Linked DNA regions of Homo sapiens. The protein of the gene in region 6 purifies or fractionates together with the protein of the main gene of each other region. This does not show direct contact. Each region holds a gene or a part of one and is shown on either strand. Other genes may lie near its edges.

Evidence for each region.
Region 1: the proteins of MRPS9 (region 6) and NUP42 purify together in Homo sapiens (affinity purification with mass spectrometry; one large-scale study listed by BioGRID and IntAct). This does not show direct contact.
Region 2: the proteins of MRPS9 (region 6) and ZNF223 purify together in Homo sapiens (co-immunoprecipitation; one large-scale study listed by IntAct). This does not show direct contact.
Region 3: the proteins of MRPS9 (region 6) and ZNF577 purify together in Homo sapiens (co-immunoprecipitation; one large-scale study listed by IntAct). This does not show direct contact.
Region 4: the proteins of MRPS9 (region 6) and ZIM3 purify together in Homo sapiens (co-immunoprecipitation; one large-scale study listed by IntAct). This does not show direct contact.
Region 5: the proteins of MRPS9 (region 6) and ZKSCAN5 purify together in Homo sapiens (co-immunoprecipitation; one large-scale study listed by IntAct). This does not show direct contact.
Region 7: the proteins of MRPS9 (region 6) and ZNF557 purify together in Homo sapiens (co-immunoprecipitation; one large-scale study listed by IntAct). This does not show direct contact.

The regions. Positions count from the first base shown.
Region 1 is NC_000007.14:23,195,548-23,199,047, forward strand, and holds part of NUP42 (nucleoporin NUP42), read left to right. Parts: intron 1-291; coding exon 292-368; intron 369-1,132; coding exon 1,133-1,219; intron 1,220-1,625; coding exon of another isoform or gene 1,626-1,700; intron 1,701-3,500.
Region 2 is NC_000019.10:44,065,268-44,068,499, forward strand, and holds the end of ZNF223 (zinc finger protein 223), read left to right. Parts: intron 1-796; coding exon 797-2,010; 3' UTR 2,011-2,732; downstream 2,733-3,232. UniProt on the Homo sapiens protein: May be involved in transcriptional regulation.
Region 3 is NC_000019.10:51,877,952-51,881,451, forward strand, and holds part of ZNF577 (zinc finger protein 577), read right to left. Parts: exon of another isoform or gene 3,006-3,500; intron 2,927-3,005; 5' UTR 2,728-2,926; intron 2,451-2,727; 5' UTR 2,432-2,450; coding exon 2,372-2,431; intron 565-2,371; coding exon 438-564; intron 1-437. UniProt on the Homo sapiens protein: May be involved in transcriptional regulation.
Region 4 is NC_000019.10:57,138,703-57,142,202, reverse strand, and holds part of ZIM3 (zinc finger imprinted 3), read left to right. Parts: intron 1-3,500. UniProt on the Homo sapiens protein: May be involved in transcriptional regulation.
Region 5 is NC_000007.14:99,528,662-99,531,930, forward strand, and holds part of ZKSCAN5 (zinc finger protein with KRAB and SCAN domains 5), read left to right. Parts: intron 1-2,446; coding exon 2,447-3,269. UniProt on the Homo sapiens protein: May be involved in transcriptional regulation.
Region 6 is NC_000002.12:105,093,569-105,097,068, forward strand, and holds part of MRPS9 (small ribosomal subunit protein uS9m), read left to right. Parts: coding exon 1-70; intron 71-3,483; exon of another isoform or gene 3,484-3,500.
Region 7 is NC_000019.10:7,079,703-7,083,202, forward strand, and holds part of ZNF557 (zinc finger protein 557), read left to right. Parts: intron 1-1,657; coding exon 1,658-1,753; intron 1,754-2,267; coding exon 2,268-2,350; intron 2,351-3,175; coding exon 3,176-3,500. UniProt on the Homo sapiens protein: May be involved in transcriptional regulation.

The DNA.
Region 1 (3,500 bases), on a different chromosome or scaffold from region 6:
ATAAAAGTTTGAATATAAATGTAGTCAAATCTTTCTCCTGTGTTTGTTGTTCATTCTACGCCACTTATCTTTAGAAAATCTTCCCCATTTAAAGATCAGAATAACCAACTATATTTTACTGTAATTTTACACTTTATTAAACATTAAGTAGAGTGTAGGCTTTAAGTTTCTTCCTCATGGTTATGAAAATTTTCTAATCAACATTAGATATTTTCTTGTTTAGCACCTCTAGCTTTACTATCAAAATTATTGGCATTTATTTTAAAGATTCCGATTGATTCCTCACTTCAGGTTTTACAGACATTTCACCAGAGGAATTGAGGCTTGAATACCATAACTTCTTAACCAGCAATAACTTACAGAGTTATGTAAGTTTGTTTCCTATTAATCTACTGCAATAACAGATGAGCTCTTAATTACTGCTTTCTTTATCGTGGCTTGTGTTTTGGCAAAACCGATGAGGTCTATGATCTTTTTTCAGGAGTAGGCTATTTTTCTTTTCTATATTATTTTCATTGAATTTGGTTGGTTATTAAAATGATAATATATTTTTACTTTAATAATTAGGAATATTACTATTTTTATTATAAATTACCCAACAGTCAATCCCAGAAATGAAACCCTTTTATCATTTGACAGATATTTATTGAACATCTGTTAGGTACCAATCCAGTGATGAATGCTAGAAAAACAAAGTTAAATAAGATACAGTCTGTAATACAGATTAACATCCTCATATATCAAATATCAAAAAAAATTAAAAATCTTGACTAGAATAAGTTGAGTACCTGAAGGAAGCAGTTTAAATGCTGTATTTTTCTGTTTCTACAGTCATGATCATGCATTTCAACTAGTACATGTATTCACCGCCCATCCAAATATAACTAACTACGTGCTGCCAGGTACTTGTGATACTAACCAGATGATACAAGGAGTTGAACGGGAGAGGGAACTGGAGCTGGCATATCTTTGACAAATAGGCCAAGTCAATGCAAATTTTGCAAGTCATGGGCCATAAAACTGTTACATAAACCTTTTGTGATTTTGGCAAAGAAGTATGTGAAGTTTTTATTGAAGAAACTAACTTAAACATACAATATTGAACTGTTATTTTTCTGTCTTCCGTTTTCAGCTAAATTCTGTCCAACGTTTAATAAATCAATGGAGGAACAGGGTAAATGAACTGAAAAGTCTAAATATATCAACTAAAGTAGCTTTGGTGAGTATGGGAGAGTTTTCTTGAGGGAAGTGTCTTACCTATTGCTTTTTTGCAGAGGATATTTTACTTTAGATTTGGAAAGCAAAACAAAAATTTTCTATCAAGAATTATGATACACACATTCCCAAAATAGCATCACTTAAGAGTCAGGGTCTTGAAATAGTTTTCTCTGTGTTCCTTGGTCAGAAAAGCAGAAATAGTTATGCTTTTTAAAAGCTTTTTAGGGTAAAGTTTTTAACTTTGGTAGTGCTAGTTTTGAAAATGGCAAACTATTACATAAGTTTAAGTATTTAAGGTTATCTGTATGTAAAAAGAAATTACTTTGAACAGTTATATGAATGCACATTTAGAATGTAATGTATCGTTTTGCGACTGAAGAACACAGTATGTTCCTTGTCTTAAACAGAAATGCCTTTGGAAGATATATACCCACCTGTCTCCAAAGATCTATGGTCCCGACTGTGGCAAGTTCATTATCTTTGTAAATAAAGTTATGATGTTTCTACACCCATTAAAAAGTTCTTAAGAATTTTATTTTAAAATAAGATATTCACATTTATAATTTTAATATTTCCAATTTCTCAGATGGTTTCTACTCTGTATAAGGATATGAGAGTAATGTCTCCCTACACTTAGTGAATGGTTGACAGTCCCAACACCCCACCCCTTTCTTAAATATGTGCTTCCTGAATAACTAGACTCTTGTGCAAGCTAATTTCTTTCATCTTTTAGTTCTTGTAATGCTATTTGAATTTAGTGGGACCTCTTGGAAGTAGTCTGTCCTTGTGTGAGAGGTGGCCCACCATCACCATGGATGAGAGCTGATGGAGAAAGGATAACTGAGTCCAAAGAACTGTGGAACTTCCCTCAGGGCTGGAAGGTCCCTGCTCCTTGCTAACTGCCCAGGGCCCCTTCCATAGGTTAGAATGTGGGACAACCCACCCATAGCTGACTTAACATGTATCAGGAGTTCATGCCTTCTTTATACTGAATGGTAACCCATTGTATGGATATAATTTGTTTATCATCTGCCTGTTAATGAATATTACACTGAGGGAGAGAAACCAGACCAAAAAAAAAAAAATAGTGTAGACCATGTGATTCCATTTGTATGAAACTCTGGAAAAGACAAGTCTCATTTGTAGTGATAGAAAGCAGACAGAGTGGTTGCCAGGGACCAGGAGCAAGAATGCTTTTGAGGGCTGGGTGCAGTGGCTCACGCCTGTAATCCCAGCACTTCGGGAGGCTGAGGCAGGCGGATCACAAGGTCAGGAGTTTAAGACCAGCCTGACCAACATGGTGAAACCCGGTCTCTACTAAAAATACAAAAATTAGCCAGGCATGGTGGCACACGCCTGTAATCCTAACTACTCAGGAGGCTGAGGCAGGAGAATCACTTGAACCCAGGAGAGGTTGCAGTCTCAAAAACAAAAGCATTCTTTTTTTTTTTTTTTTTTTTTTTTTGAGGCAGAGTCTCACTCTGTCACCCAGGCTGGAGTGCAGTGGTGCCATCTCAGCTCACTGCAAGCTCCGCCTCCCGGGTTCACGCCATTCTCCTGCCTCAGTCTCCCGAATAGCTGGGACTACAGGCACCCACCACCACGCCCAGCTTTTTTGTATTTTTAGTAGAGACGGGATTTCACCATGTTAGCCAGGATGGTCTCGATCTTCTGACCTCATGATCCGCCCGCCTCAGCCTCCCAAAGTGCTGGGATTACAGGCGTGAGCCACCACACCGGCCAAAGAATGCTTTTGAGGCTTCCAAATGAAAGAAATCGCTTATGTTTGCTTTGGATGATTAAGAAAGTCTTCTTGAAAGGAAGGAGCAAATACAAAGTTCCTTGAAAGTAGGATTAAGATTTCAGTAAGCAGAGATGAAAGACATTTCTAGAGCACAGAACAGCAAGAACATAAAGTACTTTCAGGGAATGGGAAATGTTTAATGGATTTTTAGTCATAAGCTTTTAATTATATAATAGTGGATCTACTTCGAGTATTAGACTGGGTATTCTATAAAGGTCCTTTTTACCTAATATCTAGATTTCTTGATAAATGCAGATCTACCCTTATAGACACTGAAAAAAATTTAAAAATATTTTTCTGATTATAATATCTGCTCATTGTAGAAATTTAGAAAGTATAAAAAAGCATAAATAAAATTTAAATCACCTGTAATTTATCAGCCAGAGATAATCACTGTTAACTTACTAATGTACATTTTTTATGCATATTCATATTACTAGTTGTGATTATACTGTTTATACAGTATTATGTCTTATCC
Region 2 (3,232 bases), on a different chromosome or scaffold from region 6:
ATTTTTAAAAATGTTTTTTAAGCCATCTTAAACTGAAAGGAAGGTTAACTTCTTTATAAGGATATATAATATACAGGCAAATATACGAAGTATTTATTATGTTACTGCTTTCCCTTAGAGTTCCTTTTGATTCATATTTCATTACGTACATAATAGTTTAGTAATTTATCATGTAAAATTTCAGACTGAGTTGGAAATTTTAAAAACAGTAACAGGTTAAATGTATGTGTCATATTAATTTTTTATTAAACCTTTTATTTCTATCAATGATTTTTTATTTGAAATGTGGTATGTTTTTTTCTTTCTTTTCTTTTTTTTTTTTTTTTTTGAGGCAGAGTCTCACTGTGTCGCCCAGGCTGGAGTGCAGTGGCACGATCTCGGCTTGCTGCAACCTGCGCCTCCTGGGTTCAAGCAATTCTCCTGCCTCAGCCTCCCAAGTATCTGGGATTATAGGTGTGTGCCACCACACCTAGCTGATTTTTGTATTTTTAATAGAGACGGGGTTTCACTATGTTGGTCAGGCTGGTCCCGAATTCCTGACCTCAAGTGATCTGCCTGCCTCAGCTTCCCAAAGTGCCTTGGTCTCCCAAAGTGCTGGGATTATGGGTGTGAGCCACCGTCCCCAGTGACATGGTATGGTTTTAGATTACTCTCATGCAAACCAGAAACCAGGGTGCACTTGGAAAACACAAACTGAACATTCGTTGAAGTTTCATACCATGTCCTAAGTGTGAACTCTTAAAAACACTGAACAGGGCATAGCTTGTCCTGATCTCTTAATTTTGTATTCTGATAGGAGGCAAGATCCAACCTGAGATGAAGACTTTTCCAGAAGCAGGACCACATGAAGGGTGGTCCTGCCAGCAGATCTGGGAAGAAATTGCAAGTGATTTAACCAGGCCTCAAGACTCTACCATAAAGAGCTCTCAGTTCTTTGAACAGGGTGATGCCCACTCCCAGGTTGAGGAAGGACTATCTATAATGCACACAGGACAGAAACCTTCCAATTGTGGGAAGTGTAAACAATCCTTCAGTGATATGTCCATCTTTGATCTTCCTCAGCAAATACGCTCAGCAGAGAAGTCTCATTCCTGTGATGAGTGTGGAAAAAGCTTCTGTTACATCTCAGCGCTTCATATTCATCAGAGAGTCCACCTGGGAGAGAAACTCTTTAAGTGTGACGTGTGTGGTAAGGAATTCAGTCAGAGTTTACATCTGCAAACTCATCAGAGAGTCCATACTGGAGAGAAACCTTTCAAATGTGAACAATGTGGGAGAGGCTTCAGATGTAGATCAGCACTTACAGTTCATTGCAAATTACACATGGGAGAGAAACATTATAATTGTGAGGCATGTGGGAGGGCCTTCATTCATGATTTCCAGCTTCAGAAACATCAGAGAATTCACACAGGGGAGAAGCCATTCAAATGTGAGATATGTAGTGTGAGCTTCCGTCTTAGGTCAAGTCTTAATAGGCATTGTGTGGTCCACACAGGAAAGAAACCAAACAGCACTGGGGAATATGGAAAAGGCTTCATTCGTAGGCTGGATTTGTGTAAGCATCAGACGATCCACACAGGAGAGAAACCATATAATTGTAAAGAATGTGGGAAGAGCTTCAGACGGTCCTCCTATCTTTTGATCCATCAGCGAGTCCACACTGGAGAAAAGCCATACAAATGTGACAAGTGTGGGAAGAGCTACATTACTAAGTCAGGTCTTGACTTGCACCATAGAGCCCACACAGGAGAGAGACCTTATAACTGTGATGACTGTGGGAAGAGCTTTAGACAGGCCTCAAGTATTTTGAATCATAAGAGACTCCATTGCCGAAAAAAACCATTCAAATGTGAGGATTGTGGAAAGAAGCTTGTATACCGGTCATACCGTAAAGACCAACAAAAAAACCACAGTGGAGAAAATCCATCCAAATGTGAAGACTGTGGGAAGCGCTACAAGAGGCGCTTGAATCTTGATATAATTTTATCATTATTTTTAAATGACACGTAAGTGTTGTACATATTTATGGGGTACAGTGTGATATTTAAATATATGTATATGATGTATAATGATCAAATCAGTGTAATTAGCACATTTATCACCTCAATTATCTCTTTTTTGTGTTGAGAAAATTAAAAATTCATTGTTCCAGCAGTTTGAAAATAAATTGTTGTCGATGATAGTCACCTTTAGTGCTGCAGAACAGCAGAACTTCTTCCTCTTATCTACCTGTACTTTTGCATCCATTAGCCAACCTTTGGCCATCCCACCTATCCCTTACCCTTCCCTGCCTCTAGAGCCACTGTTCTCACTACTTCTAAGAAATCAGCTTTTTAAGCTTCCCCATGTGATTGAGGACAGTTTGAAGTTAGTGTTTCAGCCATAGCTCAGCATACCCCAGTGGTCGTGGGACTGTCAGAGCAGAGAATGCTGCAGGGTTTCTAACAGAAGTTTGACAATTAGTTATTATTCAGGAGACAGGTCTTAGTATAAGAGTTTGTTCACACACTTTCAAAACACTAATGATGAACATGTCAAAATTGATGACCACTAGAATGTCAGCCACATGTGTCTTTGTATTTTTGCTGCATCCTTACATTGCTTGAGTCTGGAAGATTGAGGCTGCACTGACCTATGGTAGTGCTACTGCACTCCAGCCAGGGCAACAGAGTGAGACCCTGTCTCCAAAAAAAAAAATTAAATAAATACCTTTCTTTGTTTCTAGACAAGCATCTCTCTGTGTTTCTGGAATTTTTTTTTTGAGTGTACATACATAGTGTGTTACAATTATATTCTTATTTTCTTCAGCAGTGAATATTTGCTGGTATTTTTCTATTTTATAATTGTATGCATTATTTTTAGATTTCTCAGTGAACATCAGAAACCCCATCTCTACAAGAAATACAATAATTAGCCAGTTGTGTTGGTGTATGTCTGTAGTCCCAGCTGGAGACTACTGGAGAGGCTGAAGTGGGAGGATCGCTTCAACCCAGGAGGCAGATATATATACAAATGGAATAGAAGTGAGAGTCCATAAAGAAACCCATACATCTAAGGCCACTTGATTTTCAAGAAGGATCCAAGATTACTTTATGGAGACAGAATAGTCTCTTCGACCAATACTGCTGGGACACCTATACACAGACACACAACATAATGAAGTTAGATTGTACCTCACCCTACACTTAAAAGTTAACTCAAAATTCATCAGTGACCTAATGTAACAGCTAAA
Region 3 (3,500 bases), on a different chromosome or scaffold from region 6:
GCTACAACATGGATAAACCTTGAGAACATCATAATAAGTGAAATAAGCCAGACACAAAAAGACAGACACTATATAATTCCACTTATACGAGGTACTTAGAGAAGTCAAAATCCTAAAGACAGAAAGTGAATGGTGGTCACCAGGAGCTGGGGAGAAGTGGGGGAATGAGTAGTTGTTGTTTTGTGGGTACAGAGTTTCAGTTTTAGAAGACAGAAGGTAGTGTTGGTGGCTGCATAACACTATGTGCGCGAATGCATTTAACCCACTGAACTGCACGCTTATGGTTAAGACGGTAAATTTTATGTTATATATTTTACCACCACAACAAAAAATCTATAACATATAATACTTTAGTCTAAACCATTAAATATTTATGGGACCGTACAGTGGTCACCAAATAAGAAAGAAAAGGTAAGTGACGGCAATGCTGTCCTTACCTATTGATACTAGGTTGATGTAGTTCTCCAACATTACTTCCTTGTACAAGACCTTCTGAGACTGGTCCAAAAACTGCCACTCCTCCCTGGTGAAGCCCACAGCCACATCTTCGAATGACAATGACCCCTATAATAACAATTCCAATGCAATCTGAGGTGGATAACAATAGATGATGCGGAGAAGAGGGACGGGGACATGTCTTGATCCTTTTCTCCATGACAACGTATGCACACCATGGCTATTTCACATACCAAAGGACCATGGAATTCCACCAATTCTGCCTACCCTAAAAGCACGAAGGCAGTACTAGCATAGATATGAAACAACATGTAATAAGACTGTTCATTATTCCTTTGTTTCTCATAATGAAAAACTTACCAATAATCTAAATGTCTATCAAAAGCAGACAGGGTTAAATTACAGCACCTCCATGCTATAATATACTGCAAAAATGTTAAAATCAATGAGGTAGATGTATACATACCCACATGATTATCAATGATCTCCAAGGCAGTCTCTTAAATGCAAAAAATTAAGCTCCCAAATAATATATGATCTAAGACATATTTTAAAAATGTAATAATACGGCTGGGCGTGGTGGCTCACACCTGTAATCTCAGTACTTTGGGAGGCCGAGGTGGGCAGATCACAAAGTCGGGAGATTAAGACTATCCTGGCTAACACAGTGAAACCCCATCTCCACTAAAAATACAAAAAATTAGCTGGGCATGGTGGTGGGCACCTGTAGTCCCAGCGACTTGGGAGGCTAAGGCAGGAGAATGGCATGAACCCGGGAGGCAGAGCTTGCAGGGAGCCAAGATTGCGCCACTGCACTGCAGCCTGGGCGACAGAGCAAGACTCCGTCTCAAGAGGAAAAAAAAAAAAAAAGTAATAATATGGCTGGGCATGGTGGCTCACGCCTGTAATCCCAGCACTTTGGGAGGCTGAGGCAGGGGGCTCATGAGGTCAGGAGTTCGAGACCAGCCTGGCCAACATGGTGAAACCCCCATCTCTACTAAAAATACAAAAATTAGCAGGGTGTGGTGGCACGCACCTGTAATCCCAGTTACTCAGGAGGCTGAGGCAGGAGAATTGCTTGAGCCCAGGAGGCAGAGGTTGCAGTGAGCCAAGATTGCGCCACTGCACTCCAGCTCTGGGCGACACAGCAAGACTCCAACTTGGGGGGAGAAAAAAAGTAATAATATTTATAATTACATATGTATAAGTATACACAAGTATGTATACATAAATGTACATAAATATGAATATATTCTACCAGATGTCAATCACAGGGAGGAACTAGATAGAGACCCAAACTATGAACACTTATTTAGTATCCTTTGGGTTGAAGTTTGGGCAGAAAAAGGGTGAAAGGAGATACTGTCTTTTGATACAAATGCTTCTGTTTGCTTGAATCTCTTGCGTGCAAATGTAGCCATGTATCATTTCAGTAATTAAACATAGAAAAAGCAAAACAAGCCGAACTGGTGCTTTGTTTTTTGAACCTGGAGTTAAGAAGGTAAGAAAGAAGCATTGTCAGTATCTGCATTCCAAGCTGTTACCAAAGAATGGAGCTGTTAATTGTCTCCTGCTGTCTCAATAACAAAAATCTGGATGAGAGAATTCTTCTTCAGGGAGGATCATTCAAAGGTCAAGCAGCCCATTCATTCTACTGGATACTCCAGGCTTTATCACTGGGCAAAGTCAGATGACCAGAAGCCTCTATTTTCAAGGCACGCTATTTTCGAAGAATTTTGTCCAATCCAGTTTTCCTTTGGCATTACTCCTTAGCTTACCCCACTAAACAACAGGAAAAAGCCATAGAAAACATCCCATGCCTTTATTACAAGGCTGACTTTGAGGATACCGTCAACCACAAAAGCTCTCTGAAGGAAAGAAGTTTCTCAAGCTCTCACAGCAATGACAAATTTACCTCCCCTGAAGAACTGCCTTGCTCTCTCCTCACAGACATTACAATCGTGGCATTTTTCATGTGTTTCCTGTTATTTCAGCTGCCAAAAAAAAGGAGACACAGTTTAAAGCAGAGAAAACCCACAGGGTCTTAACAGTCACTTAGCTATGTTCCGACATTAAGAACTTTCACAAACCCCCTGATCCATATATCTTGTTTCTTAATTTGCCAGGATTTTAAGATTCCAACTTAAACTTATTTTCCCACAGATCCTGATTTTTATCAGCATACACTATCTCATTTAACCAGACTGTCTTTTACAAGCTTCCACAGACCCATTGGGAAACAAACGACAAAATAGGTAAAACAAACCTCACCTGGGCCTTGCCCATTTCGTTCAACTCTTAGGGGCTAGCAACTCTAGTATGTTCTCTCTCTTCTGTCTATTCTGGGCCTTCCCAGAAGTGGTGGTCAGGTATCATCTCAGGTCAAGCTACCACTGGAAATGATGATCTTCCCCAGCCTGGAAGCTCCTTCTTCCATTACTGAAAATGTCTTGTTCCTATAGGCCAGAACCTGTGGATTCAAGACCAAATTCAATGATAAGAAGACATGCTCCTAGGATCACAAGTCTCCAATTGCCATCTGGACTCACATTAACATCAGGTTCCAATATTTCATCTGTCTCCTTAACACCCTGGAAGCCATTACATCATGGGGCAGTGATCCAGAGGAAGATATGGAATGTGCAAGAGGAATGCCTTTTTTTTTGGTTATGTCAGAAATAGAGTGGATGTGAAACAGGAGAAAGTAAACAAAAACCACCTATGGTCTTGTCCACTGCCAAGTTCTCACATATATCAGTTTTAGGTAAGACAATGAAGGAAGTGGTAAAGCCAGACATGGTGGCATGTGCCCTAGAGTTCCAGCTATTGTAGAGGCTGAGATGGGTGGATCTCACCTGAGCTCCAGAGTTCAAGACCAGCCTGGACACATGGCAAGACTCTGTCTCTAAGAATAAAAACATAAAAGAAGTGGTGGCTCAAGAAACTGACTTAAAATCACCACCGGCAGCCACATGCTCCTAAATTTTTGGTTTATTGCACTGTCTTACTAATCATACAAACCATAAGCACTGTCTTACTAAACC
Region 4 (3,500 bases), on a different chromosome or scaffold from region 6:
CACTGCACTCCAGCCTGGGTGACAGAGCATGACCCTGTCTCAAAAAAAAAAAAAAAAAAAGCTTGGTTACGGAAACACCAGGAGTTTGGTCTAGGTCCTGCTACTGGCTGCACAGAAAGCCAATGACTGAGACAATGGGTATTGCCAAGGAAGAAGCTTTAATCAGCTGCCGTAGGTGAAGAAATGGGAGCTCAGCCTCAAATCCATCTCCCTAACTCACTAAAACTAGGGGTTTATACAGCATGGAAGAAATATAACAATGTGTAAGAAAGCAAGACTAGGGAGGGGGCAAGGAGACATCTGTTGTGGTGAGTTTCAGTTGTGGTGAGTTTCAGTTGATTTTTTTTTTTTGAGGGAGTCTCGCTGTGTCACCCAGGCTGGAGTATAGTGGTGCAATCTCAGCTCACTGCAACCTCTGCCTCCCAGGTTCAAGCGATTCTCCTTCCTCAGCCTCCTGAGTTGCTGGGATTACAGGTGTGCGCACCACCACTCCTGGCTAATTTTTGTATTTTTTGGTAGAGACGGGGCTTCACCATGTTGGCCAGGCTGGCCTCGAAATCTTGACCTCAGGTGATCTGCCTGCCTTTGAGAGATCTGAAGGTCTTTTCCTGAGGAAGGAACTCAGACAAAACAAATACAGGTTTCAAGCTTTAACAGCGGAAGGGTCAATTTCTATGTTTATCCAAAAAACAAAAACAAAAACAAAAACAAAAAACAAAAAACCCACAACTGTCTATGGGATTACTGGGCTGGTTTCAGCTCAAGCATCTTTGTTTTGTTGTTTTTTTTTTTTTTTTTTTTTTTGAGACAGTCTCCCTCTGCCACCCAGGCTGGAGTGCAATGGCTTGATCTTGGCTCACTGCAACCTCCACCTCCCAGGTTCAAGCGATTCTCCTGCCTCAACCTCCTGAGCAGCTGGGATTACAGGCGCACGCCACCACGCCCACGCCCGGCTAATTTTTGTATTTTTAGTAGAGATGGGGTTTTACCATATTGGTCGGGCTGGTCTCGAACTCCTGACCTCAGGTGATCCACCCGCCTCAGCCTCCCAAAGTTCTGGGATTACAAGGGTGAGCCACCACGCCCAGCCTCAAGCATCTTTTGACCATTGCTCTTACAAACCTGGTCCACTGCTAAGCCCTGAGATGTAACAGTGTCATGTGTGTTTCACCCCAACCTATTTTTTAAATGATTGGTGTCTTGAATGTGTGTCCTCTCCCAACTTTGTTCGGTGTGTATTTGAAACAAATTCTGTAAATCCACACAATAAACTGAAAAATCATTAACTAGTACCAGTCGGAATCAAAGTAAATTATGGATAGCTGAAAGACCAAGGATAAGTTGTATGCAGTTAGGCAGATAGTAGTTTCTTTGCAATTGTTAAAATTAAGCCTGTTGACCAATTTCCTGTTGACAGGAAAGGCATACTAAGGCTGGGTGTGGTGGCTCACACCTGTAATCCCAGCACTTTGGGAGGCGAAGGCAGGAAGACCACTTGAGGCCAGGAGTTCAAGACCAGCCTGGACAATATAGTGAGACCCTGTCTACAAATAATAAAAAATGAGCTTAGCATGGTGGTGCATGCCTGTAGTCCCAGCTATTCTGGAGGCTGAGGTAGGAGGATTGCTTGATCCTGGGAGGTTGAGGCTGCAGTGAGCCATGATCATGCCACTGTACTCCAGCCTGGGTGGCAGAGCAAGAACCTGTGTCAAAAATTTAAAAAAAAAGGCCGGGTGCGGTGGCTCATCCCTTTAATCCCAGCTCTTCGGGAGGCCGATGCGGGCAGATCACTTGAGGTCAGGAGTTTGAGACCAACCTGGCCAACATGGTGAAACCCGTCTCTACTAAAAGTACAAAAATTAGCCAGGTGTCGTGGTGCGCGCCTGTAATCCCAGCTGCTCAGGAGGCTGAGGCAGGAGAATCGCTTGAACCCAGGAGGTGGAGGTTGCAGTGAGCCGAGATTGTGCCACTGCACTCCAGCCTGGGCTACCAGAGTGAGCCTCTGTCCCCTTCCCCGCCAAAAAAAATTAATAAATAAACAAAATTTTAAAAAAGCGAGCTAGAGCACAAACACAACTAAAAAATTTATCTGTCCAAGAGGACACTAGGTGCTGGCTCTTAGAGGTGAGATTTTCAGTTTCTGACAAAGGAATTCGCTTTACAAGTGTGACTTCCAACACTGTGAGTGTTGAGTGGCAGGGGCAAAATGCTGCCGTAAGTCCAGTATGGCTGCAGGAGAGACCCAGGGGAGTGCTGTGTGACCCTGTGTGAGTGGGAGTGTGGTAGACATGCCAGACGCTGGCCCCTGTAACAGGTGTCACCTGTTTCTCCCAAATGCAAGGAAAGCTGATAAATTAGGGGAGCGCACCATCCAGTCTGAATGTCGACTGTGGAAAATAGATTACAGTCAGTTTAGATGTAGCTGGAAGAATTAGGGGGCTATTGGCTTATTCTACTTATTTATGTATTTATTTATTTGAGATGGAGTCTCACTGTCACCCAGGCTGGAGTGCAGTGGTGTGATCTCAGCTCACTGCAACCTCCACCTCCCAGGGTTCAAGCGATTCTCCTGCCTCAGCCTCCTGAGTAGCTGGGATTACAGGCGCGCACCACGACACCTGGCTAATTTTTGTATTTTTAGTAGAGATGGGGTTTCACCATGTTGACGAGGCTGGTCTCGAACTCCTGACCCCGGGTGATCCACCTGTCTCAGCCTCCTGAAGTGCTGGGATTATAGGTGTGAGCCACCATGCCAGGCCTCTATTTAAAAAAGAATTTCTAATAGAGGCAGGATGTCTTAAAGAAAAATGGAAAATAGAAAAAAAATATAATAACATTTTCTTTTCTTTTCTTTTTCTTTTTCTTTTTTTTCTTGAGACAGAGTTTTGCTCTTGTTGCCCTGGCTGGAGTGCAGTGGCGCAATCTTGGCTCACTGCAGCCTCCACCTCCTGGGTTCAAGTGATTCTCCTGCCTCAGCCTCCTGAGTAGCTGGGATTACAGGCGCCTGCCACCATGCCTGGCTAATTTTTTGTATTTTTAGTAGAGATGGGGTTTCTTCATGTTGGCCAGACTGGTCTCGAACTCCTGACCTCAGGTGATCCACCCGCCTCGGCCTCCCAAAGTGCAGGGATTACAGGTGTGAGCCACCGTGCCCGGCCAAAATAATAAAATGTTCTTTGAGATAGGGGTTTTGCTATGTTCCCCAGCTAGCCTCAAACTCCTGGCCTCAAGCAATCCTCCTGCCTCGGCCTCCCAAAATGTTGGGATGATAGGTGTGAGCCACCATACTCGGCCTCTGCCTTACTCTAAGTAAAAGATGACAAGGTGGATTTATGAATGGTGGAGAAGATGGAAACTAATGGCTGGGTTTGAGATTCAGGAAGTAAAATTGGTGGGACTAGAGGGTGGAGAAAGATGGCAGTGTCATGAGTAGGTCTAAGGTTTATGGCTCATTGGCAAGATCCTCTGGGCACAATTTATTTTCATCCAGAGTAGAGTGA
Region 5 (3,269 bases), on a different chromosome or scaffold from region 6:
AGCGATCCTCCAGCCTTGGCCTCCACAAGTGCTAGGAGTTACAGGTGTGAGCCACCATGCCCGGTCCTCCCTCATTTTTCTGGATCAAAGGGGGAATACATGTTTTGCACATCCAGCCATATTATTGAGAGTCTGTGTTGCTAGTTGCACAGGATCTGCAGTGACCAGAACAGAGATACAGTCCATGCTCTCATGCAGCCGATGGTCTGGTGGGGGTAGCAGATAGTAAAGGTGATGAGCATTCCCAAAGGAGAAGGATGACATGCCGGGGGAGGAAAACTGAGGCTAGAATGTTGGCTAAGGGTGAAGGGGGCAGGGATTGCTGTATCACCCACCCTCTGACAATGCTTCTTGTTGGCTCATTTTGCCTTATTTCCTGACTCCTAGTCAGATATTCCCTGACTGCATACCCTCTTCATCATCCTTCACTCTCATTCTTCCAGTTTTTGTCAGTTCTCACCACCCAGTTATGTATTTGTTTTTTGTTTTTCTTTTTTGAGATGGAGTCTCACTCTGTCACCCAGGCTGGAGTGCAGTGATGTGATCTCAACTCACTGCAGCTTCTGCCTCCTGGGTTCAGGCGATTCTTCTGCCTCAGCCTCCCGAGTAGCTGGGACTACAGGCACCTACCACGATCCCTTGCTAATTTTTGTATGTTTAGTAGAGATGAGGTTTTACCATGTTGGTCAGGCTGGTCTTGAACTCCTGACCTCAGGTGATCCACCTGCCTCAGCCTCCCAAAGTGCTGGGATTATAGGCACGAGTCACCACACCCAGCCTGCTACATTTTCTTTATCAACTCATTGCTCAACGGGCACTTAGATTGGCTCCATATCTTTGCAGTTGTGAATTGTGCTGCAGAAGACAGGCGCTTACAGTCTTTTTGGTATATTGTCTTTTCCTTTGTGTAGATATACCCAGTTGTGGAATTGCTGGATCAAATGGCAGATCTACTTCTGGTTCTTGAAGAAGTCTCCATACTGTTATCCACAGAAGTTGTATTAATTTATCTCTCACCAGCAATGTATAAGCGTTCCCTTTTCACCACATCCATGCCAACATCTATTGTTTTTTGACTTCTTTGTTTTTTTTGAGATGGAGTCTCGCTGTGTTGCCCAGGCTGGAGTGCAGTGGCGCAATCTTGGCTCACTGCAACCTCTGCCTCTTGGGTTCAAGCAATTCTCTGCCTCAGCCTCTGGAGTAGCTGTGATTACAGGGCACCCACCACCATGCCCAGCTAATTTTTGTATTTTTAGTAGAGATGGGGTTTCACTGTCTTGGTCAGGCTGGTCTTGAATTCCTGACCTCGTGATCCACCCACCTCGGCTTCCCAAAGTTCTGGGATTACAGGCGTGAGCCACCTGCACCCGGCCTTTTTTTTTTTTTTTTTTTGAGATGGAGTCTTGCTGTTGCCCAGGCTGGAGTGCAATGGCGCAGTCTCGGCTCACTGCAACCTCAGCCTCCTGGGTTCAAGCGATTCTCCTGCCTCAGCCTCCTGAGTAGCTGGGATTACAGGCGCCCGCCACCATGCCCAGCTAATTTTTGTATTTTTAGTAGAGATGTGGGTTTCACCATGTTGGCCAGGCTGGTTTCGAACTCCTGACCTCAGGTGATCTGCCCGCCTCGGCCTCCCATAGTGCTGGGATTACAGGTGTGAGCCACCACGCCCGGCCTTTTGACTTCTTAATAATGGCCATTCTTGCAGGAGTAAGGCAGTACCTTATTGTGGCTTTAATTTGCACCTTCCTGATGATTAGTGATGTTCAGCATTTTTTTCATGTTTGTTGGTCATTTGTATATATTATTTTGAGAACTGTCTCCATGTCATTTGCCTACTTTTTGATGGGATTTTTTTTTTCTTGTTGACTTGTTAGAGTTACTTGTAGATTCTGGATATTAGTCCTTTGTCTGATGCATAGTTTGCAAATATTTTCTGCCATCCTGTGGATGAGTCTTGCTCTTTTCGTCAGAAAATTCCAAAAGTTTGTTGTTTACATTCCTGTTGGCATCAAGTACACACACACATCCACCTCTGTTACTCCCGTTACATCATAGTTTCATCTGATGAACATTTTTTATGACAGTTTATTTTTCCTTTATAAAAGAACTGATGGGCCAGGCACGGTGGCTTAAACCTGTAATCCCAGCACTTTGGGAGGCTGAGGCGGGTGGATCACCCAAAGTCAGGAGTTTGAGACCAGCCTGGCCAACATGGCAAAACCCCATCTCTACTAAACATACAAAAATTAGCTGGGTGTGGTCATGCACGCCTGTAGTCTCAGCTACTTGAGAGGCTGAGGCAGGAGAATCACTTGAACCCAGGAGGCAGAGGTTGCAGTGAGCCGAGATCGCATCATTGCACTCTAGCCTGGGCGACAGAGCAAGACCCCATCTCAAAAAAAAAAAAGAACTGATGACATTTTCACTTGCTCTTTATTTTTTTTAGGCAGTGACAAAAGAAGTAAGAACACAAAATTAAGTGTTAAGAAGAAAATTTCAGAATATTCAGAAGCAGACATGGAACTATCTGGAAAAACCCAAAGAAATGTTTCTCAAGTTCAAGATTTTGGAGAAGGCTGTGAGTTTCAAGGCAAGCTGGATAGAAAGCAGGGAATTCCCATGAAAGAGATACTAGGACAACCATCTTCAAAGAGGATGAACTACAGTGAAGTCCCATATGTCCACAAAAAATCCTCCACTGGAGAGAGACCACATAAATGTAACGAGTGTGGGAAAAGCTTCATTCAGAGTGCACATCTTATTCAACATCAAAGAATACACACTGGGGAGAAACCATTCAGGTGTGAGGAATGTGGGAAAAGCTACAACCAACGCGTGCACCTAACTCAGCATCAGCGCGTCCACACAGGTGAGAAGCCCTACACCTGTCCCTTATGTGGGAAAGCCTTCAGAGTGAGGTCCCACCTTGTTCAGCATCAGAGCGTGCACAGTGGGGAGAGACCCTTCAAGTGTAACGAATGTGGGAAAGGCTTTGGGAGGCGTTCCCACCTGGCTGGACATCTTCGACTCCACTCCCGAGAGAAATCCCATCAGTGTCGTGAATGTGGGGAAATCTTTTTTCAGTACGTTAGCCTAATTGAACATCAGGTGCTCCACATGGGTCAGAAAAATGAAAAAAATGGCATCTGTGAGGAAGCATATAGTTGGAACTTGACAGTGATTGAAGACAAGAAGATTGAGTTACAAGAGCAGCCTTATCAGTGTGATATCTGTGGAAAAGCCTTTGGTTATAGCTCAGACCTCATTCA
Region 6 (3,500 bases):
AACATGGAAGTGGAAGAATAAAAGTAAATGGAATTGATTACCAGCTTTACTTCCCGATCACACAGGACAGGTTCGTTTTGGGTTCTGATTTTTTGTTTTTAAAGGAAACATACTTTATAATACATCATGATCATTTAAGAAGGCTTGTGATCTTCTAATTCTGTTTATCTGAATGATTATTTCTCTTTACCAATGTAACATATCAAACTAGCTAATTGAAGCTATTTTTTAAAGCAGCTTCCAGATTTTTTAAAAAGCATCTCTAGAATTCCTCATTAATTGACTCTTCTTCCCCTTTTCATCAGATCCTACTGCAGTTTGAGTAGTCTTAGATGTAGCTTATGTTCTGAAGTGCAGACTGTGCCAAAATGTAAAAAATTTTGATTTAGATTTCCACCTTCTAGTTTGGGGATGGGCGTGCACAAAACAAAACCACCACCACAACAACCAGCCTTGGCACTTAAAACTGACCTAACTCACAAGGCAAAGAAAAGTGCAAGTAATTTCTTGTGGCTTGTGTATGTTTTTCTGATCATAAATATTAGAAAAATTCTGCTTTATCATTTTGGATTTTTTCCTATTCAGAGGAATGTGATTATATATATTGAGCAAGCAAAGAAACCTAGCATTTATGGGTTAAAATAAGAACTCATCAGGCTTTGCTTAGTTCTGGGTGCTAAATATGGCAGTTTTAATTTTTAAACTTTGTATCCTATGGAGAAATAGACATTAATCATAAATAGATACTACAGCTCTTCTAATCTAAATATACTCATCTCAGAACTCTCTCTGACTTGCTATATAAAGGCCTCTTCTTGATATGGTTATTATTTTCCCAGTACTTACTGTCATTATCCACGAGTAACAGAAGTTTGGTATGATTAGTTCCTCCTTTCCTAATCCTTCTCCTGTTTCCTGCATGTGTTACGGTATTTAAGGTCAAAAGGGCTAAAACTCTTTTGATACCAATGCTGATATAGGCAAAAGAGGACCCTCCTAATACAGTGTAAGCTTCTGGACACAATAATTATTTTAGGAAATGTGTGTTTATTTTATTTGTGTGTGCCTGTGTCAACAAGCAGTGCATTCTTAACTCCATTTAAGATGAATTAGTTCTGCTATTATCCTCACAGGACAGGGGATGGAAGAAGCTTTTATTTCCCTTAGGAAAAGCCAGAGAGAAACCCATACCCCAGGGTTTGATAACTTCAACATTGGGAACTATAGGAGGACTGTTCTTTAACCAATAACCTGTCTGTTGATTTGTATTCAGACATAACTCCTGATGATTTAACAGCAAGTCTCAATTCTGGCTTGATCTCATAATGAAATTACATCTTTAGATCTTATTCTTTGGTTTGAATTCAGCAGCTTTTTACTAAGGACATCTATGTCTCCAGTCTTGTTCTGGGCATTGTGAAGATATCAGAGATATTTAAGATATGATTCCTATTGTCAAGAAACTTCCTACATGGTTGGGAAGCCTAAGCCTAGTCTTGGTGGGAATGGGCACCTACAACTATTTTAAAGTAGTTGTAAGGATTTAGGGCAGTCACTTCAGGAACTTACAAATCAGCAGTGAGGTGACCATTGACTAATAGGAAGACTAACCAACCCAGAATCAGGGATCTTGATCGGAATTCTGTCATCACCTAACACACAGTGAAGTGGGTTAGCCACGTAAGTGAAGTTACAAGGGAGGCTTCTGGACAGCCATTTGTTTGGGAGCTTAAACACTTTCCTGGCTTAATTTTTAAAATTTTATGATTCTTTAACAAATGCTTATATAAATAAAAAGAGACTTCAATTAAAATCTAGAAAAATAGATTTCATAATGTAATTACTGGATATATAACTGAGTCATGGAGCCAGATGGTCGAGGTAAATGCAATAGTGGAATTAGATTTTCAGTCTGTACATTTTTTTTTTCTTTTTTTTTTTTTTTTGAGATGGAGTTTCGCTCTTGTTGCCCAGGCTGGAGTACAGTGGTGCAATCTTGGCTCACCACAACCTCCGCCTCCTGGGTTCAAGCAATTCTCCTGCCTCAGCCTCCTGAGTAGCTGGGATTACAGGCATGCACCACCATGCCTGGCTAGTTTTGTATTTTTAGTAGAGACGGCGTTTCTCCATGTTGGTCAGACTGGTCTCAAACTCCCGACCTCAGGTGATCTGCCCGCCTCGGCCTCCCAAAGTGCTGGGATTACAGGCATGAGCCACTGCGCCCAGCCTAAATTTTCTTTTATATTTACTTTTTTTTTTTAAGAGACAAGGTCTCTTTATGTCACCCAGGCTGGACTCAAACTTCTGGACCCAGACTGGACTCAAGCTGCTGGGCTCAAGCAGTCCTCCCACCTCAGCCTCCTGAGTAGCTTGTACTTTAGGTGCTCAGCTTAAATTTTCTTTAGTTATCATAGTATATTAATAGATACTACTTATAATACTGTTTTTATAACTTATGGCTACTTTTCATTTGGTTTCTTGGAAGCATTTGTTCAAAAAGACAGTATAGATTTATGAGTTTTTTGTTGTTGTAGGAGTTATGTCATCCCTACATCGTATTGTTATAAATTCCGATTTGCTATGGCTTTTGAAAGTCATCTTTTGCCCATCTGCTTGTGATTATTTTACTAGTGTGGTATGAAGAATAGCACTTGAATGTCCTGTCCATACCTGTCTCTCAGCTTAACTGTGTTATATAAACTTGATTTTGGGTCTAGAAGCTACAGCATCAAAGAAAGCAAACGCAATATAAGTGAGCTTTTCTGCATAAAAGTGTAGCAAGATATTAAGGCAAAATAGCAAAATCAAAGTGCTTGACAGAGGTAATGGTGAACATCTTACCTGGCGTGAAAATGATATTCAACAAATACTTGTTCAGTTGAGCAGGAGAAAGTCCAGGGCCGTGTTTTGTCTGTGGTGCCTGCCCCAGGATCTTGTAGGCCCTGACCGACCCTGAAAGAGCAGGCCTGACAGGGGTTGTGTAGAATGTCACCTGGCCCCAGGAAGGTAGCAGGACCCTATGATTTAGAGAACTTTAAGAATATTGGGAATAGGTGTTTGGTGTCAGGGAAGTGCAAGGTCGAAAATAGTTTTAGAAACTTTAAAAACTAACCATATCAAGATGAGCATTATACATTATACAGATACACTTATAGTAGACTTTATTTAGTGAATCCAAATGACATGTGATAATTGTTTGGAAAGGCCTATTGATTTTATATCTGATCATTCAATCCAGAGACATTAAATTCAGTTGATTAATGGAGTTCCCCAACTGTAAGACTTCTTTACGAGATTATTTTCAAGCTTTGAAAAGATCTTCTGAGATAAAGGGGATCAGCAAACAGTAAGAGTGTGTTGCTATACCCAAGCAAAAGAAATAAATCTTAATCTCTCAGCAAATCATTCAAAATGTCAGAAATGTTAGTGTTTCTATATCTTGGTAAAATGGATTGATTGAGAAGTATGAAAAGTATAACAGTGGCATGCAGAATATTGTT
Region 7 (3,500 bases), on a different chromosome or scaffold from region 6:
GTCTGTATTGGTCATGTGTGGCCACTGAAGTCTCTGTTCTGTTAGCTTAGTGTTCAGCTTGGGATTAATTTGTCAGAGATTTTTTTAAATACCTGGAACCCAAAAGATGACCAGTCTTTGCCAATGGATCTGAATTACATGTTGGAGCATGCCTTCAAAACTCAGCTAAAGCATCTTACAACTCTGACTTAGCCTTCAGTTCCTTCTTATGCAGAGCCTGAAGGTCAGTCAAAGGTGAGGGCTTGGTGCCTTCTCAGATCTTCTCTGAGCATGTGTTCATCCCTGGGTATGAGCATGGCCTTCTAGAAATGTGTGGAGGCCGGGCGCAGTGGCTCATGCCTGTAATCCCAGCACTTTGGGAGGCTGAGGTGGGCGGATCACCTGAGGTCAGGAGTTGGAGACCAGCCTGGCCAAGATGGTGAAACCACATCTTTACTAAAAATACAAAAAAATCAGCCAGGCGTGGTGGCAAATGCTTGTAATCCCAGCTACTTGGGAGGCTGAGGCAGGAGAATTGCTTGAACCCAGGAGGTGGAGGTTGCAGTGAGCCGAGATCACACCACTGCACTCTAGCCTGGGCGACAGAGCAAGACTCCATCTTGTGGGGGAAAAGAAGGTGTGGAAAGATGCTCTACTCCTCAGAGCATCTTGTTCCCAACTTCTCCTCCCAGGTTTTTTGGTTAGTCTTTTGTTTGCTTCACAGTTTTCCCTTGCCCCATTGAGCAGTGGCTGATTTGCCTTTAGATGTGTTGGGACACACTTCCCTCTCCACCCTCCAGCTTCCATAGGTGTAGCCTCTTCAGACCTGGGAGAGTTTGGAGTTACACAAATAAAGGGAAGCCCTTTGATCCAGCCCATCAGGGAGCCAGCAGACAGGTCAGAAGAGAACAGCCACAGGTTTTTGAGAATAAGGTGCATTCTGTTCCCTTCAGCACTAGAAACACAGGTTGTTGTCCTCAAGGCAAAATGGGGAATAGAGTGTGCAGCTAGAGTCAGTTAAAATGTCACAAATCTCTCTTACCCAGATTCAGCTGTTTGTCTTGATTAGGCATTCTCCTGTGGCTGTAAACTTTTGATGACATTCAAGAGCTCCAATGAAGTTGATTCTGTGTTTGCCCATTTACATACTGTTTTTGTGAAGGGATGGAGTTGTGGAGTTCCCTACTCCACTACCTTCACTGACATTACTTCGTTTAAGTCCTTCATAAGCACCTCTGTTCCTAGGTCTGTGCTGGGATGTGGGAGTAGTGAAGAATGCAACAGACATGCCCCCCACCCTCATGGAGCTGTCTGTCTAATGCTATCTGTATGAAATGAAGATCTCCTTCTTTCCCTGACTATATATTCTCTGTAGTTAAATCTTTTGGGCTTTCAGATTCTGTATTTAAACCTGGACAGGGGCTCCTGGGACCAGTTATCCTGCAACCACCCTAGATATTGCTTGTGGGGTGTGTGTGTGTGTGTGTGTGTGTGTGTGTGTGTGTGTGTGTGTGTGTGTGAGTGTTTAAGACGGTTGCTATATTTATTCAATTTTGGCATAATTATTTCTCTGCTCCTGAAGTCACACCTCTTCACCTTCAGAACTGATTTCAGTTTCATGGGAGAGCTTGTCTGCTGCACAGTCCCCCTACATCATGTGTCTTTTCTCCATGTACAGGGAACCAAGTTGATAAACCTAGGCTGATCTCCCAGCTGGAGCAAGAAGATAAAGTGATGACAGAAGAGAGAGGAATTCTCTCAGGTACCTGTCCAGGTGAGCACCAGGTGGATATAAGTCCTTGTGAGGAACAGCTCTGGCCAGGGACTGAGAAGTTGGGAGTATTATAATACATTAGGAAATATCAGTCAGAGAACTGTGTAAATGCCCCTTTTCCCAAGAAGGCCAAGAACGTTTGGTCTGAGCCCCCTCATGTACCTTCATGACTTCCAACTTTCTGTCATCTCATACTTTACTTGGGCCTCAGGGGAGAAAAAAAGACATCTCTTTTTCTGAAATTTAAGTCTCCTATGAGCTCTTTGATCAGTTTCAGTCCACCTTGCCTTCCTGACAATTCCTTCATTCTGTCAACATCAATCTCAATCTTCCTAGAGTCTTTCTTAAACATTGCCTAAAATTTTCACACCCATATCTCTTTCACCGAATGCCTTCTCAAAAACCCTCACCTCTCAGATTCTGCCTTCACTCACGTATGCATTTTACTATTTCACCATCAACTTAAAATTTGCCTCTTTTCTATCAACTTAAATTTCTTTTTAACTTGTTTCAGATGTGGAGAATCCATTTAAAGCCAAAGGGTTAACTCCTAAGCTGCATGTTTTTCGAAAAGAACAATCTAGAAATATGAAAATGGTAAGACTAACATGGGTGATTCCTGGTTTTTTTCATGGTAGAATGCCCTACATGAGAAAAGCCACAAGGACTGGCCTTGTTGGCCAGGCACAGTGGCTCATGCCTTTAATCCCAGCACCTTGGGAAGCTGAGGCAGTTGGATCATGAGGTCAGGTCAGGAGTTGGAGACCAGCCTGGCCAATACGGTGAAACCCCATCTCTACTAAAAATACAAAAAAAACTTAGCTGGGTGTGGTGATGCGCACCTGTAATCCCAAATACTTGGGAAGCTGAAACAGAAGAATCACTTGAACCCTGGAGGTGGAGCTTGCAGTGAGCCGAGATTGTGCCACTGCACTCCAGCCTGGCGACAGAGCAAGACTCTGTCTCAAAAAAAAAAAAAAAAAAAGTGGCTTTATTAAATAGTTATTAAAGGAAAGTGTCATTTTTTTCAAAGATAAAGTAGTACCTCTGGAGAGATACTGTGAAATTATTTTGAATTTGGAGAAAAGCATTAGTTAGCCCCAAACTTGTTTTTCCTGAGAATTCCCACAAGTAAATATTTCCAGTAGTCTGAGTCAGATATTGGATATTTGAAAAAGAAATTAGCCTTAAATTTATCAAAAATACTCTGTGAATATGATAAAGATTTGTAGAAAGAATCCATCTTCTTTAAATGCTAAGAATTCAAACTGACAGAAGCCATGTACCAGCACTCATGATGGCAAAAACATTAATTCCAATACTATGATACACAACAGAATTCCTGGGAGAGGAAATTCCTCTGACAGCATTCAATGTTAAAAATATTATAAATGGTACTTATTGTCATCTCTTAATCAATAGGAGAGGAATCATCTTGGAGCAACACTCAACGAATGTAATCAGTGTTTTAAAGTCTTCAGCACAAAATCTTCCCTTACACGGCACAGGAAGATTCATACTGGAGAAAGACCCTATGGCTGCAGTGAATGTGGGAAATCCTACAGCAGTAGATCTTACCTTGCTGTTCATAAGAGAATCCACAATGGGGAGAAACCCTATGAATGCAATGACTGTGGGAAAACCTTCAGCAGCAGATCTTACCTTACTGTTCATAAGAGAATCCACAATGGGGAGAAACCCTACGAATGCAGTGACTGTGGGAAAACCTTCAGCAATTCCTCATACC